2 separate regions of the Homo sapiens genome follow, and region 2 is linked to region 1. Evidence: fine-mapped expression QTL. A gene starts in region 1. The other region holds a variant in brackets. All regions are shown on one strand. Distances are from middle to middle. Region 1 holds the start of WAPL (WAPL cohesin release factor). Region 2 has its middle 47 kb from the start of GRID1.

Region 1 (2,904 bases):
TGCCAGAAGATCTTTAAACAAAATGATAAAAACAAGTTCCTAAACTGCCAATTAAAAAAAGAGACAAAACTGACCCAAATAAAACAGTCATGTGCATCCCACCCACAGTGGAAGACATGGACTTGTTTTTCATATAAACTACAGAAGAAGTTGATTTATTTTGAAACAAGAAAAAGTACTGATTCAGTATTTAGGAAATTGTAAATGTCAGAATATAAATTCTGCAGTCAGGTAGGCAAAACAATCCAACCACACTAAAATCCACCTTAAATTCCTCTTGGGAAGAGCTGCAGGGTCTCTGAACTATTTTTCCTTTATTTGGAGTTTCCCCGATTATACCGGAGGGAGCTGGATAACTTCTGGGTGCATTAAAAGCAAATTATCCATTTGTGGGAGAAGGGCGGGCTTCTCACTGAAAGCAATTAGTAGTTTTCTAATTTCCCAGGTGGGTCTCCATTAACCGCCTAACAAACACCAAGGCTGTCGGAGTCCGACGAATCATGCACCTCTCTTAGGGGGAACTGGTTGCGCTACTCTTTAGAACGCTGTTTTCCCATGGTAGCCTTAAAAAAAACTTACCAATTTTCTGAATTAGGTAACACATTGAATGGGAAAAACCTAAGATAGCACAAAAAGGCGTACAGCGAAAAATTAAGACTCCTTCCTCCCGTCATCCGCCACCTCACTGTCCTCCCTAGAGGCAATCGCTGGTTCACTTCTTTAAACTTTTTATTATGGAAAATTTCAGATACACAAGTAAAGAGACTGTATGATGAGCACATATGCTCGCATCACGCAGCTTCAACGATGAAAAACGTTCTGCCAGCTTGTTTTATTCCTCTCCCCCAGTTTTCATAGGCGTATTTTACAGTCCTGACACCAGATCACTCTGTCAACACATCAGTAGGTCTTAAAAAAAAAAAAACAAAAAACCATAACCACATTACCGTTACCACACCCAACAAAGTTAATGATAATTGCTCAATACCATCCAATATTCTCGGGGCCACTTTCAATCGGTGAGGGGCAGACGGACTTAGAGGAAGGACTGCAGGGCTGGAGGGGCGCGAAAAAGCGAGGGGCGACGCTGCTCGTGGCCTCGGGTGTCCGGCGCCTCGCGGTCCCCGCCATCGTCACCTACGCCGGGCCAGGACCGACCAGGCCAGGTCGAGGGCGGCTCTTGACCACGCGCCCCCTGCCTCCCAGCTCCCGGGCGGCGGCCTCCGCAGGCCCGGCACAGCTGCACAGCCCGCGGTCCCCAGGCACCGGCGGGTCCCTGGAGGGGAAGCGATTGATACAGCTGCCTGCACTGCGCCACCCGCCCGGCTGCCCATCTCCGTGGCACCTGCGTCTCCCGGCTGGGCCGGGAGCTAGAAGTGGCTGCCGAGACCGGGAGGGCCCGGCCAGTCGCCCGCTCCCGCTCCCGCGCCTGGTCCTCGGCCCGCGACCTCGCGGACCTGGACTACAACTCCCGTCGGGCTCCGCGGCCGGGCCAATGGCGGGCGCCGGAGCATGCGGGGCGCAGCGCCTGCGCGGCGGTTTGAGTAAGCGGCTGCGCGATTGGCTGCGGGGTCGGGCGGCCGCGCGGGGACTGTGGGAAGCGGAGTGACGGAGCGAGCGGCTGTTGGAGGAAGGAGGTGGGGGCCGGGAGCGCAAATGGCGTTGAGATGGTTCAGGGCCCTGTTCAAACTCCAGCACTGACCATTCACCGGCGGAAGCGGCGGCGCAGGAGGCGGCGGCGGCCCAGCGGGGGCACACAGCAGGCTCTGTTACCAGCTCCAGCAGTGGCGGCCAGCGAGAGCTAGGCCTGGGCCCGGCCGGCGGCGCTCGAGGCGGGGAGGGAAGTTGCGGGGCCGCCGCTCCTGCCCCCCCAACCGGGCTTCCTATTTACCGAAAGCAGAGTCCCTCGCCTCTCTCGGCTCTCACCTGCCGGCCCTGCTCTCCCGCGCGAGGGTTCCGCGCCCGCCCGCGGGCCGTAGGGAGCGGGAGAGGCGGAGGCGGCCCGTGGCCAAAGCACCCGCCAGGCTCCGAGGGTAAGTGAGGTGTCGGGCGGCCGCCTAGGCCGGGAGGGAGCCGGGAGGGTGGGGGAGGCAGAGGCTGGGAGCGGGCGGTGGAAGTCTCACTGCCTCGCCCACCGGGCCGCTGAGGAAGTTGGGCAGGGGAATGACCTGAGGAACTCTTTTTTTCCCCTTTTATTTTCCTTTTTCGGAGTTCTTTTTCGGGCGACTGCTGATTGACTTAGCTCCCCAAACCCAGTCAAGTGTGTTGATTTCAGCCCCGAGTCCTTTCCCGTGGTTTCATCCGCCTCTGGCCGCCACTGGGGCCTTGCACTGCCTTAAGGATTCGGTGGCAGAGGCTTCCGGGGCGTCGAAAGTGACCTCCCTTTCCTGGGCGGCGCGGGTTGGGAGGAGAAAAGTTGCATTGAGTGTCTAGTCCGAGGGGTCCATCGCGCCCACTGCCCGTGGCGCCCCGGCTGTCCCCAGGTGAGGATTTCTGGTTAGTCAGGTTCGTCCCGTCCGCTTTCCATCTTTAATGGAAGCCCTTAAAGCCTTTGGGGATCGGGAAGACGCTAGATTAGGGTGGGAGTGAAGTATAAAGGCTTTTTGCTTTTTTTTTTTTTTTTTTTTTTTTAAATCACAGCGCACTTCTCTCAAAATTCGACCTGATTTTGGGCTAGGGCAAAAGCCGAACGACCGAAAAGACTTAGTCGTCAATCATTCTTTCCTTTTTAGTTAGGACAGTCTTTGGAGTTTAAAGGTTGAGCAAGATTGTGTACTTGAAACACTTAAAATTTAACTTCAAGGACGTCTGCACACTTATTTTGGAATCTGTAGTGCTTTACGCTTAGATAATGCCATTGCAAAGACATTTTATTGTGGGAAACGATAAAGGCAATCAGGAGGA
Region 2 (2,904 bases), 110 kb after region 1:
TTAACCTAGAGGAAATAAAGTTTCATGAGAAAATAAATGCAATCATAGTATAGTATAAATGGCTCACTGGGTAATATTTACACAGCTGTAATCATGAATGTTGAATACTGAGTATTGATCTCACCGAAACTTGTGATAGAGCTTTATTGGGGAGATATGTGTGCAGCACAGGAGAGGAAAATTCCAGTCTTCTAGGGCAGACAGTCAATGGAAAAGTCAAGAAAGAGCAGTATAAGCATATTGTTTAAAAATATGGAGTTGGCCGGGCTGGTGGCTCACACCTGTAATTCCAGCACTTTAGGAGGCCGAGGCAGGAGGATCACGAGGTCAGGAGATCGAGACCATCCTGGCTAACACGGTGAAACCCCGTCTCTACTAAAAATACAAAAAATTAGCCGGGCGTGGTGGCGGGCACCTGTAGTCCCAGCTACTCTGGAGGCTGAGGCAGGAGAATGGCGTGAACCCGGGAGGTGGAGCTTGCAGTGAGCCGAGATTGTGCCACTGCACTCCAGCCTGGGCAACAGAGCGAGACTCCAACTTGAAAAAAAAAAAATGGAGTTAAGGCCGGGCGCGGTGGCTCATGACTGTAATCCTAGCACTTTGGGAGGCCAAGGCAGGTGGATCACAAGATCAGGAGTTCGAGAGCAGCCTGACCAACATGGTGAAACCCCGTCTCTACTAAAAATACAAAAATTAGCCAGCTGTGGTGGCGGGCGCCTGTAATCCCAGCTACTCAGGTGGCTGAGGCAGGAGAATTGCTTGAAGAGAGGCAGAGGTTGCAGTAAGCTGAGATCACACCAATGCACTCCAGCCTGGGCAACAGAGCGAGACTCCGACTCAAAAATAAAATAAAATAAAATAAAAATAATGATAATAATAAAATAAAAATATGGAGTTAAATCAACTGGCAGAAAAAAAGCAGGTGCCAGGGCTGGAAGTGGGTGCTTCCCAGGAACAGAGCTCAATGGGGAACTGCAGAGCTAGGGGACCATTATTTTTAATTGTAAGCATTTTCACTGTAAAACGTTTGATTTTTAAAGATAAGCACACTTATTACTTCGATAGAGATAAAACTCAAGCCATAAAAGGAAAGTGAGGGGCCAGGCACAGTGGCTTGTGTCTAAAATCCCAGAGGCTAGGGTGGCTGAGGCAGGAGGAGCACTTGAGGC[T/C]AAGAGTTTGAGACAAACCTGGGTAGGATAGCAAGACCCTGTCTCTTCAAAAAATAATTTAAAAAAGATTTAATCAGGCATGGTGGCATGATCCTGTAGTCCCAACTTCTTTGGAGGCTGAGGAAGGAGGACTGCTCGAGCCCAGGAGGTTGAGGTTGCAGTGAGCCATGACTGTGCCACTGCACTCCAGCCTGGGTGACAGAACGAGACCCCAGCTCCTTTTTTTTTTTTTTTTGAGACGGGGTCTCGCTGCGATGCCCAGGCTGGAGTGCAATGGCGCCATCTTGGCTCACTGCAACCTCCGCCTCCTGGGATCAAGCGATTCTCCTGCCTCAGCCTCCCGAGTAGCTGGGATTACAGGCACACGTCACCATGCCCGGCTAATTTTTGTATTTTTAGTAGAAACAGGGTTTCACCATGTTGGCCAGGCTGGGCTCAAACTCCTGACCTTGGGTGATCCGCCCACCTCGGCCTCCCAAAATGCTGGGATTACAGGTGTGAGCCACTGCACCCGGCGGAGACCCCAACTCTTAAAAAAAAAAAAGAAAAAAATAAAGTGAGTGGCAGCTGGGACTGGCTTTGGGGTGGAAACCACATCCTGAGTTGAACCTTTAGACCATGGAGAAGTTTCTGAGGCACTTAAGCACGAATTTTTGCATGATTGGTCATGTGATGCATCACATAATTTTTGGTAACTAAACTGAAATAATAAAAAGTAAATTTGCAGGGTTTCAGTACTATAGTTGTCAGTACTGTACTTACATAGCACCCCATGGAAAATAAAACAAGACAAACCAAATATTACATAAGCACATATTGCTACTCTAACTTCTTCTGTTTTATGTTACTGTCATCCAAGGAGAAAATTTAAGCATAGCTTTCATAAAAATAGCTCGCCTGCACTGAACATGCGCTGTATATATGCCAGAGTCTGCAGAAACCACATCCTGCATTTAACCTTTGGATCACTGAACAGTTTCTGAAATGGTAAGCATGAATTACTGCACAATCCACCATGTCCAGACAGAAATAGTTAAAGTGGACTAATATTAAATATAGCATTTATTTTTAGGGTTGTAAGAGTGACGCAGAGAACCCATACACAAGAGAAACTAAAATGGAGTAAAGCAAACCATCTTACTTCAGCACCTGTTACTGTTCCAACGACTGCCTGATCACACCTCTCCAGCCCCGGATGATGTTCTGAGGAATGTTTTTAATTTTAATTGTGAACATTTACTGAGCACTTAGAATGTGCCTGGCAGTCTTCAATTATTTATTTATTTATTTAGAGACGGAGTCTGGCTTTGTCGCCCAGGCTGGAGTGCAGTGGTGTGATCTTGGTTCACTGCAGCCTCTGCTTCCCGGGTTCAAGCAATTCTCATGTTTCAGCCTCTTGAGTAGAGTAGCTGGGATTACAGGTGCCCACAACTATGCCTGGCTAATTTTTGTATTTCTAGTAGAGACGGGGTTTCTCCATGTTGGTCAGGCTGGTCTCGAACTCCAGACCTCAAGTGATCTGCCTGCCTCTGCCTCCCAAAGTGCTGGGATTACAGTTTGTGAGCCACCGTGCCTGGACTGTCTTCAATTTTTAGATACTTACAGAAGAGTTTATGTTTCAATTTTGGGTTTCCAGGTCTATGCATCAAGAGTTCATAATGTGTGAACAGACAAACTCTTACCTAATTTTCAAGGCAGTGTGAAGTTTGTAAAGAAACAACAGGTTTACTCTGGA

The links.
Region 2: its variant is fine-mapped to the expression of WAPL in whole blood (TOPMed, PIP above 0.99).

The regions. Positions count from the first base shown.
Region 1 is chr10:86,520,494-86,523,397 of GRCh38, reverse strand. WAPL (WAPL cohesin release factor) reads left to right here and starts at 1,606. Exons shown (of 19, transcript NM_015045.5): 1 at 1,606-2,033. WAPL-DT (WAPL divergent transcript) reads right to left here and starts at 1,451. Exons shown (of 2, transcript NR_186498.1): 1 at 989-1,451; 2 at 1-889. RefSeq lists silencers at 993-1,552, 1,693-2,112.
Region 2 is chr10:86,412,513-86,415,416 of GRCh38, reverse strand. No RefSeq gene overlaps it. Among named protein-coding and RNA genes, the nearest start is that of GRID1, 47 kb to the right of the region's middle. RefSeq lists enhancers at 1,292-1,341, 2,342-2,691. The variant T/C (reference allele first, on the strand shown) is at 1,170.